Linked DNA regions of Homo sapiens. The protein of the gene in region 3 interacts with the protein of the main gene of each other region in a biochemical or structural test. Each region holds a gene or a part of one and is shown on either strand. Other genes may lie near its edges. The genes, in order: STRN4, LATS1 and MINK1.

Region 1 (3,649 bases), on a different chromosome or scaffold from region 3:
ATATTACCCTTGGGAAATAAAAAGCCATGCTTCATAAATCTTCACAAGGTATCTAAAAAAAAAAAAAAAAAAGCCACACAGGGCTCCTATGGCCACTGAGACAAAAAAAAAAAAAAAAAAAAAAGCCACAGAGGCATTCAGGGACACATTCCAACAGGGGTGTCCCCACGTCTGCCTCCTGCAGCGGGTTTCCCTCCCTCTCCCCAGGCCAGGCTCCGCCCACAGGGTGAAAGCCATTCCAGCCATGGCTGGCTAAGATCCTGATAGTTCAGCATCCCCAGTGGGGACGGAAAAGGACTGTGGAGTCTTTGGACTTATCTCTCAAGCCAAACGTGTCACGTGTCCCCAGCCCCCCTCCCCGAGCACACTCACTGTCGGAGAAGCTGCCGCCCCTCCTTCCACACCAACGGGCTGTTCTCCAGGGTGACCGATTCCACGGGGCCATTGGAGACTGGCGGGTGAGAGAACGGAGGCTGTCTTAAGTCAGGCCACTGCCACCTACCCATCACCTCCTCCATCTTCCTCACCCCTCCAACCCAAATCGGTCACTGTCGCAGGTCCTGTGGCATCACTTCCTGAGTGTTGGAACCCTGCTCTCTTCCCTTACTCGGGGATTCCTCCTCCTTGAAGCGTTCCTCATCTCTAGGTCTCCTGACTGGTGGTTCCCCAAACTGGCCCCCGACAAGATAAGGGTGTTATCTCAAAACCAGAAAGCTGGCCTGGTTCTGAGAGAAGGGCCGACTGGGTTCAAGCCCAGCTCTGCCCCATCCCAGCTGTGTGACCCTGAGTTAGTGTAAGCCGTGTCAGTTTCGTCCTCTGAGAAATGAGCTTAATGATAACAGCATCTCCCTCTTGGGAGTGCTGAGAGGATGCAATGAGATAATTTGCTTAGTATTTTATTCAAGTCTTTCCTGGGCATCTACGCTGTGCCTGGCCAGGGGCCTGGGCTACATGGGTAAACAAAGACCTGCCCTTGTGGAACTTCCGTTCTAGTGAGAGGAGCTGGCAGCAGGTAATGACCATCACTATCAGCTGAGCACACAAGGTCTTCTCAGCTTGCCTCGGCCAAGCTTCCCCCTCACCCAGCCCGCCCTCCCACATCCTCTGCCCTACACTGTTTGCCCAGGCACACTGACCGACTCCCTGTCCCCTAACCCTTTCAGCGTGCGTCTCTGTATCTGTGCTCTCTCCCCTGACTCTCCTGCTGGGGAACGGAGTCATCTTTCAAGGAGCTTAGACTCTAAGGGACCAGAGGGTAGAGACCATGTCTCCCGTGCTCTCTGCTGTATTCCTGATCTGTGATACAAAGCCTGTACCCTACAAATAAAGTCTTTTTTGGATGAACGATTGAACGGCAACCCTGTTCAAACGCCACCTCCTCAGTGACGTCTTCCCCGGCTTTCCCGCACCGTCCCCAGCACTCTATAAATAGCCCTGGCGCCCACTCCTCGCAAAGGGATCCCGTGAGCTGCTCGTGTGTCTGCCTCTGTTGCACAGGGGGACCCAAGCGGGACTGGCCCCCAGGGTCCAGCACGGGACCTGGCAGCCCATAGGGAGGGCTCTGAGAGTGAGATTCCGCCCCTCCCCAGCCCCGGGGCCGATTCTGCCTTCTAAGGAGCAAAGTGAGAAAGAGGCACCCCATCTTCCTGCTTCTCCAGAACACTCAGCTTCTGCGGGAGGGTGCCGACAGTGCGAGCATCAGAGGGTGGGTACCTTGTTCTGACACATCTGCTTTCTTCTCCCCCTGGTTCAGGTCTGTCCCAAACTTCAGTTTATGATATTTGGCCCTAAAAGAGCAAATGATTAATGAATAAGAGATGCGGGAGAGTAGACAGGGTCAGTAGTTACCTAAGGAATCCAGAATCCCAAACCCCAAATCACAGGGCCTCCCCCAGCTCGTCTACTACTGAGGCTGAAGCATCCCCCCACACCCCTGGCCTGGTGGAAGAAACCACTCCCTGGAGTCAGGCAACCTAGGTTGCTCTCAGGGGTCCTTGAGGAAACCATCAGCCCTTGAAACCCCAGTTCCTTATCTGAAACAGGGCTAACAATACCCGTTAGGCTATTGGAAGGTATAAGGGATAACGGAGGTAAGGACTATACGATATTTGGCGCACAGTGGGCCACTAGCATCGTGAATATCGTTCCTGGTGTCTAACCCAAATCCCACCTACTCTGTCCTGTTTCTCCCCTAGAATCTTATGGTACTGGAATGATGGAAAAGAATGTCGACCCCAAATCTCCCTTAGCTGGAAGGAGGCGTGGCTGGTGGCCTCCTGACACTGTGCTTGAGACGGACCCAGAAGGCAGGCCCAGGGCAGGATGAAGGCTCACCTTTCCTGCTTCAGCGCATACTCTAGCATCTTGATCCGCCGCACCAGGTCCGTCTTTAGATTCTCCTGCCCTTTCCTCTCTCCCTGAAGGAAGGCCACCTGAGCCTGGGAGGGCAGACAGGAGGCAAAGGGAGATAATGGGGCTCAGGCTCAATGCCGGTGTGTCTATCACTCACCCAGGTATAGTGCCAGCCCACAGTCACCCCACAGTAATGGGCAGCAGCCACTTCCTCAGGCACAAAGATCCCAAGCCAGGGTTCAGGGAGCACTGAGAGGACAGGATGGATCTGTTTCCAGGGCCCCCTGCCACGTCACCCACAACGAGGGCCGAAGGGGAGCCCTTAACCCCTGAGATAACAATGGGGCCAGCCTGGGCCTCACCTGGTGGCTGCCTTTGGGGGGAAGTCGGGTCAGGGATGGCAGTGGAGAGGAGGGTGGGCATTCACCGCCCTGGACTACCCCTGACGCCCTCTGGCAGGTGCTGTCCCTAAGGCTGCTGGTGGAGGTGGCGTCCCACTATTCTTACCAGAGCATCTGTCTCTGGGAGGCGTGGGAAGCTACTTCTGGAGCTTAGGGACAAGAGTGGGTGGCTCGGCTCGGCTCCTGCTCCAATAGAAAAGCTTTACAAGCCAAGCCCGCTGTGGGGACCAGCCGTCCCACTGCATTCCGCCCAGGGTGTGAGAGAAATGTGCCACAGACACGACCCCGGGTTCCTGCCAAGCACTTCACACCGTCTGCTGGCTTGAGCTGCCCCGTCTGCTCCAGTCTGTCAACAGGTCATTTGGAGACACTGGGCCCACTGCCTTCCAGGCAGGATCCTGGCCCCTGACCATGGTCCAGAAGCTCTTCTGCCAAAGCCCTGGCCCAAGGCTCATCTCTGGCTTCTCCCCAAGCACCCCACCGTTCCAGCCCAGAACAGCCAGAGCCCAGGCCCAACTTAGACACTTACTCGCTACATGATCTTACGCAGGTCATCAGCCTTCTCTGAGCCTCCATTTGCCCCTCTAGAAAATGAGAGTCACAAGAGTGCCCTCCCCTCATGTGCTAGGTTCTGCTCAGTCAAGGCCTGGCACAGAATAAAGGCTAACAAATGCCAGCTTCTACTTCTTTCATCATTTTTATTCTCCCTGTCCATTGTTCGCAACTTCGAAATGGGCCCAGTTCCTTACGGGAGGTAGGATCCCTTGGAGACCCCAGATCAACTAGAAATGTCTGTGGATTGGCCAGGCACAGTGGCTCACGCCTGTAATCCCAGCCCTTTGGGAGGCTGAGGTGGGCAGATGACTTGAGGTCAGGAGTTCAAGACCAGCCTGGCC
Region 2 (3,649 bases), on a different chromosome or scaffold from region 3:
TTTAATATCTCTATGAATAAAACCCATTTTATGAACACTTTCAACTGCACAGGTAAGTTCTGCTATGTAGAATCGTGCCAGACTTTCTGGAAAGATGCCCATTCTAATTAATAGGCTCATCATATCACCCCCAGGAATGTAGTCCATTACAAAGTATAAATTGTCCTTATCTTGGAATGAATAATATAGACGAACTACCCATTCATTGTCAGCTTCAGCCAGGATATCTCTCTCAGCCTTAACATGAGCGACTTGATTTCGAAGAAGAACATCTTTCTTTCGAAGAGTTTTTGTTGCATACAAAGCCTTAGTATCTACTTTTCTTGCTAGACAGACTTCACCAAATGCTCCTATTCCTAGTGTCTTTATCTTCACAAACATAGACTTGTCCATTTTAGCCCTTTTAAGACGGATGTAATTAGATTCTTTTTGGCAAAGCATCTTTCTCATTTGATCCTGGGCATCTTGAGATAATCCAACCTAGGCAAATAAACTAGATGTTAAATAAGAATTATCTTCTTCAATATTGAATATTAAGAAATAGCTTGGGAAAAATTCAGGCATATATTTAAAGGTTAAATGCATAATTTTTAATAAAGCATGTTAGAAATCTAGAAAACATTTCAAAGGAAATTAATGATCAAAAGTGCAGCCTAAGGGGTAGTTAAAAGGATATTCAAAGTGAGTACCTATGCAAATTCAGCTGTGGAGTGCAAGAAGAGGGTACCAGATGAGTAAGCTTTCTACTCTTCTCTAATGCACTCCGAAAAAAAAAAAAAAAAAGGTTCTCAATGTGCAACAAACATCTGTTAACATGTTAACATGCATATTCATTTATCTCTCTGTATATGCTTCTCTTGGTGGAATGCCTAGGCCTCAAATATTCTTCCTATTTTGTCTTTCATGAAAAAAAATTCTTCCACTCCAGGCTCATTTATTCTAAAAAATTAATGTACCAAAGAACAACAAAACAATGCCTTTTCTAACCCACCAATCCTTTCCCTATTCTCAATAAATATACAACAGTCATTAATAATCTTTCCTTTTCTATTTTTCAGGGCATCAGAGTAAAGGTGCGACTCACAGTCTACCACTAACACAAATTGCAAAGGGTTTCTCCTACTTCGAAAAGAACAACCTGGTTGTTTACAAGATATCCTTTGGATACTTAGGAATACTTCAGTGTGACTCATGAAAATATCAAAAAATAGATTAAAAACAAAAACTAACTTCTAAGTATTATAGATATGGAATGCCTGGATTTAGAAGGGAGAAACATTTTGGCTAATTAATAAAGAATTAATTAAAGGGTTTAAATAGAAAAGAAATCCAGTTGGAAAAGTGGGGTCTAATTCTAGAAATACAAGACTAAAATAGAACAACCACATGCTTCTGTTAGGATTCACATTTGCATGCAAAATCTTTTAAGAAGGATGGCATGCCAGACTTAGTTCAGAACTGTTTCTCTTAAAATCTTACTTGCCTACACAGTAATGGAGACTACAGAAGTCAGCAAAGCTTCCAACACCATAAAAGTTTAAATCAGCTATTAGTGAAAGTGAAGAGGAAAAAGGAAAAATAAACTAAGAAAATACACATAGGCAGACTTTAGTAAGAAATCCTAAGAATTAAAATATGGATAAGTCATAGAAATTATTATGGTATTTCTCATTTAATAAAATATAAAATAGAAATAACAATACTGTAAAATCAGATTTATTAAAATCATTTTAAAAGAATGGTTCAAGTATATAAAGGTGTTTAATCACAAGGTTAAGCCTCTTGGATTGTGAGTGACAGATGTAAGATTAGGAGTCAAATCTTTGAACTCTAAGCATATGATAAAAACAATAATGGCCAGGCACAGTGGCTCATGCCTGTAATCCCAGTGCTTTGGGAGGCAGACGCGGGTGGGTCATGGCGTCAAGAGATCAAGACCGGCCTGGCCAACATGGTGAAACCCCGCCTCTACTAAAAATAAAAAATTAGCTCAGCGTGCTGACGGGCGCTTGTAGTCCCAGCTAGTGGGGAGGCTGAGGCAGGAGAACTGCTTGAACCCGGGAGGCGGAGGTTGCAGTGAGCTGAGATGGCGCCACTGCACTCCAGCCTGGCGACAGAGTGAGATGTCGTCTCAAAAAAAAAAAAAAATGATGATCGTACTACCTTAATATCTAGAGATCTATGTGGAATGACAACACAGATTAAAGTGTGTTTACTTACTCTGATCTCCCTTTTAGTATAGTTTCACTAAATAATTTTAGCACATTTTTCTCCAGTATATTATAAAAATGAAATGAGAAGGGAGATATAACTGAAGGAAACTTCTTTACACTTTTTAATAAGATATATGTGATGAATAAACCTATAAACTCCAAATTTTCTAAAAGTAAATGTTTTATAAGTATATCAAGAGATGAGACCCACGTATTTCTTTTTTCTTTTTTTTTTTTTTTTGAGACGGAGTCTCACTGTCGCCCACACTGGAGTGCAGTGGCGCGATCTCGGCTCACTGCAACCTCCGCCTCCGGGGTTCACGCCATTCTCCTGCCTCAGCCTTCCAAGTAGCTGGGACTACAGGCGCCCGCCACCATGCCCAGCTAATTTTTTTTGGTATTTTTAGTAGAGACGGGGTTTCACTGTGTTAGGCAGGATGGTCTCGATCTCCTGACCTCATGATCTGCCTGCCTCAGCCTTCCAAAGTGCTTTGATTACAGGCGTGAGCCCCCATGCCCCAGCCTGAGACCCACATATTTCTAGTTTATTTTTAAATGTTGTAAGATATTGTATGAAGCCTAGAAGACAACCCTTCCTCCAATTTTCATATAAAGGTATTATGTACACCTAAACTGTATACCGCAAATTATATTTTTCTTAATTTACACGAGATTTTATTATAGGAAATTCTGAATAAATATTGAAATACTAAAATAAAATGCTACAATCAAAAGTACTTTAATATTTATTCACTTTTAAATTCCATAACTGATAATATATTTTATTTAGCTATAAAAAGAAAGAAAAATACTGGACACAATATTTTAAAATAAACACCAAGCAAACAGATGATTAAGTATAAAAATGGACATTTTAAAAGGTTTTACCCGCATCATTTCATTCTCTAATTGTTTTTTACGATGTAGACGCTGCTGATGAGATTTGAGTACATTTTCTACATGTTGCTCCATAAAGAATTTAAATGCTTGAGGAGAATAACTTTGAATACGAGATTCCCTTCGCTCTTCATCTTTCTTGTTTTTCCTAACAGTAATAGGTGAAGTTGTAATCTGTTTCTTTTCTTTATCCCCACTATCAACATTTTCATAACTCTTTTCACTCTCATCTTCCTTGGGCAAGCTTGGCTGATCCTCTTTGCTAGGCTTACTGATTGACTCGTATGGAGGAACAGATGGGTTTTGGTGCAGCAGATGTTTTGGGTAGGGTGGTGGTGGTCCTTGATAGTTTGGAGCTTCAGCAACAGGTGGCATCACAGTCACATTTGAAGCGGTTCCCTCAGGAAAAGGACTGGGTTGAACAGTTTGAATTGGCTGTGGTATCCAAGAAGGGTGTGTAGGTGCTAAAGCAGTCTGTAGCTCTGGTTTTAATACACGCATACTTTTCACAGGCTGTTGAATAGGAGCTGGTGTAATTG
Region 3 (3,260 bases):
CTGTACCTGAGATGGTGATGAGCAGGTTGAGCCCCTCCAGCACATCCATCTGCTGGAAGCGTCGCCGCCCAATGAGTCCATACACCTTGCCCTGCCCACTTCGGTCCAGCAACATCAGCCCGTTCTCCGTGCCCACCAGCAGGTTGACCCCTGCAACAGGAGCCCTTGGGCAGGTCAGAGGCTCAGCCAGGCCCTCACCTAACCAGGAGCACAAGAGCCACGCCAGAGCCTCCTCAGCTGTCCCTGCCCTGGCTTACCCCAAAGGGCTGCACAGAGGATCTCGGAGTTGAATCGCTTCTTGTACTTCCGGATCTCAGGGGTCTCACTGTGGGCCCGGGTGTTGGTGGGATTCACGTTGACCACAGAACCCTTCCTCACGTCGTACTGCAGCTGGTCGAGCCGAGTGCCCTCTCCACCCACTAGGGCTGCCAGAAGGAGGAGGAGGTGGGAGGAGGGGCTGCAGCTTCTCACCCCATCTCTTTTTACCTCCATCCCCTATATCAGGTCTTGGCACCTCATAATACGCAGAAAGGAGGAGAAAGACAGGAGGAGAGGAGGTGCATGGGAGAGGGGGATAGAGTGCTGGACTTGGAGTCAAAAGGTCTGGCTCAAGTCCCATTTCTGTCACTTGTTAGCTTTGAGTCTTTGCCCAGGTCCCCTGGCAACTCTGAGCATTTCCTGTCCTGTGGGACAGGAAGGAGGGGTCTCAGAGGCTCTTCCTTGCCTCTGTGCCCAGGCAGGTGCTAGGGCCCAAGGGAGAGGTCCTGTGGCTATGCTTTGTGAGGCTGCGTCTCAAGACCACTGTGCTCCCCTCCAGGCTGCCCCTGGACCCTGGCCTCACAGCAGGTCTGTCCTCCTGTCCTCACCTGTGATGGGGATGCTGTCCCCACTGCCTCCAGGCTGGTAGATCCCTAGATCCACAAACATCGTGAACGAGCTCTTGCCAGGGGCCTTTACCAGCCCACGAGACTGGTACTGTGGTAGGGGGACAGCAGTCAGGCAAACAAGTGCAAGTCCAGCTGCGGCCCTGCCCCTGCTGCTGTTCCCCAGGCTCCAGCTCCCCAACTGGCACCCCCGCTGTCCAGCTCCCAGCGCTCCGCCCCATCCTCTGCCGTTACCCAGCACCGGGACCTCCTGCCCATCGCCAGGGCTCTTCTCTCCCGGCGGACCTGCCTCCGGCCCACTTACGTCACCACTCCCATCCTTCGAGGGTGGGCTTTGGCCTTTGCTGTTCTCGGTGGGTGAGTGGCTGGGCTGGACCACGTCAGGCAGGTTTGTGTACCCATTGCTGTCAGCATGCAGCAGGTTCCGCTCCTCTTCAGGGGTCTACAGGACAGAGGGCAGGGTTGGCGTGGGGCTGAGGAGGGCACACACAGGTACAGGGGAGGGAGCAGAGGCTCACTCACGCGCTGGACCACCATGGTGCCGCCCCCGTATGGGGGCTGGGTCCCGGTGATCTCCTCGACGTCGTGGACCACCATGGTGCTGACGCTGTCTGTATCCCCATCGCTGCTGTGAGAGAGGAAGGTGGGGCCCCTCCAGGTCCTGCCCGTGGCCACAGAAGTGCCAAAGGCAGCAGATGGCAGCCAGAGCCCAGGCTTTTGTCTCTATTCAAAACACAACCTGCTCCACCCTCACGGTGTAGCCCCTGCTCCACCGTGAGGTGCTTCCCTGCATGGCACACAGGGCAGGCTGGCACAGGGGCAGACAGGCACTTGAAGAGGCCACCCCACAACACACAGGGCAGCGGGAGAGAGACAGGAACCTGCACCCTCACCCCACTCTCTAGAGAAGGGAGCCGCTCTCCCTCAGACTTGCCCCAAAGCCCCACCTCTTCCCCACTGCCACTTCCCCTCCCTCCCTGTGCCTTGGAGTGGGAGGGCCCCACTCCCGATGCCGTACCGGCCCCCAGGGGTATCTCTGCTCCCCTCTGCTGGCCCGCCTTCGCCTTCCTCCTCGTCGTCCTCACTGCTTTCCACCTCCTCGCTGGACGACGAGTAGTCCATGGCCTTCTTGGGAGGCCGAGGGGCCTCGTCCAGAGTCCGCTCTTTCAGCAACACAAAGTCCTGCAGGGAGGAGCCACGTGAGGGGCAGGGAGAAGCTGGGCCTGGGTGGAGGTAGACAAAGGGTGCCGGGACACCCCAGCAGGGCGACAGGAGGGGCTCCCACAAGCAGGCCCATCTCACTAACCTCACCAATTGCTCGCTTATAGCTCTGGGAGGGGCCGCAGGGGAAGAAAGAGCCAGAAGAGAGGTTAGGAGAGAGGTTAGGAGAGAGGTTAGGAAAGGTTAGCACCATGAGAAGCACCAGTCCCTCCATCCCCACAGCCCTTCTCGGTAGATCAGCGGAGACCCCACCCCTGACACCCAGCACCCTGAGGCTAAGCCCCAAACCAGGATGAGGCAGGCCATGCCTGCCACCAGGTGACTCACTGCGGGCCGGCCTGGCCGTGAGCGGTGGTCGTCGGGCTTGGCTTTATTCCCAGGGGAGAGCACAGGGGAGCTGTCCGGTTTGGAGGAGACTGGACGGCAGGGTGGAAGAAGGTCACTGATGCCTGAACAAGGGATGGCCTCAAGCCCACACCCTGAGCCCCAGAACTCAGCCCCAAGTTCCATACCCACACAGGTCCTCCCTGTCCGTGTGGGTGCCCCAGTCCAAAGCCACCAAAGGCAGGGTCCATGGTGATAAGCCCCCAGGCCCAGAGCAGGCTGCCCAGCCCTGGCTCACATACCTCCCACGCGGTTCCGCTCCAGTGAGCCAGCCTGGGGGAGGTGCCCGTGAGAGGCTGGAAGGACGCTGTCCGAGCGTTCCCAGCCAGGGTCGCTCCTCCTGAGGTCGGGGTTACTGTTGGGGGGGCAGAGTCAGGGTCAGGGAGGCACGGTGCTCCCTTCTCTGGGGTGCTGAGCTGCACTGCAGAGGGAGCCATCACCAGGGAAGCGGGTGGCAGAAGTGAGAGGTGAGAGTGAGTTGGGGGACAACTCTATTACCTAGAGGCGTTGGGCGGGCCAGGGGGCTGAGCAGGGGGCCCTGGAGGCTTTGGGGTGCCCCGCTCTGCCCGCCTTTGCAGATAGATTTGCCAGGCGGAGTTGCTGCGAGGTCTGTGAAGGGAGCACAGGGGTGCCGAGGGGGCGGCGGGGGGGCGCTGAGGTGATGGGGCTGGGGCTTTCCCACCCCCAGGCGGGTAGGCTGGTAAAGTCCCTGTGCCCCCCCTACTCCCTAGGCTGCCCTCAGACCTCACCCAGGCGTTGCCCTACCCAGGC

The links.
Region 1: the proteins of MINK1 (region 3) and STRN4 form a complex in vitro, tested with the Homo sapiens proteins (one study listed by BioGRID).
Region 2: of the proteins of MINK1 (region 3) and LATS1, one has a biochemical effect on the other in vitro, tested with the Homo sapiens proteins (2 studies listed by BioGRID).

Annotation. Positions count from the first base shown.
Region 1 is NC_000019.10:46,736,451-46,740,099, forward strand, and holds part of STRN4 (striatin-4), read right to left. Parts: intron 2,937-3,649; exon of another isoform or gene 2,860-2,936; intron 2,439-2,859; coding exon 2,335-2,438; intron 1,788-2,334; coding exon 1,714-1,787; intron 452-1,713; coding exon 373-451; intron 53-372; coding exon of another isoform or gene 8-52; intron 1-7. UniProt on the Homo sapiens protein: Calmodulin-binding scaffolding protein which is the center of the striatin-interacting phosphatase and kinase (STRIPAK) complexes.
Region 2 is NC_000006.12:149,679,978-149,683,626, forward strand, and holds part of LATS1 (serine/threonine-protein kinase LATS1), read right to left. Parts: coding exon 3,102-3,649; coding exon of another isoform or gene 3,039-3,101; exon of another isoform or gene 2,937-3,038; intron 1,547-2,936; exon of another isoform or gene 1,484-1,546; intron 481-1,483; coding exon 1-480. UniProt on the Homo sapiens protein: Negative regulator of YAP1 in the Hippo signaling pathway that plays a pivotal role in organ size control and tumor suppression by restricting proliferation and promoting apoptosis.
Region 3 is NC_000017.11:4,892,240-4,895,499, reverse strand, and holds part of MINK1 (misshapen-like kinase 1), read right to left. Parts: intron 3,099-3,260; coding exon 2,988-3,098; intron 2,845-2,987; coding exon 2,732-2,844; intron 2,522-2,731; coding exon 2,433-2,521; intron 2,215-2,432; coding exon of another isoform or gene 2,191-2,214; intron 2,067-2,190; coding exon 1,903-2,066; intron 1,513-1,902; coding exon 1,407-1,512; intron 1,327-1,406; coding exon 1,189-1,326; intron 976-1,188; coding exon 867-975; intron 426-866; coding exon 258-425; intron 165-257; coding exon of another isoform or gene 151-164; coding exon 7-150; exon of another isoform or gene 6-6; intron 1-5. UniProt on the Homo sapiens protein: Serine/threonine kinase which acts as a negative regulator of Ras-related Rap2-mediated signal transduction to control neuronal structure and AMPA receptor trafficking.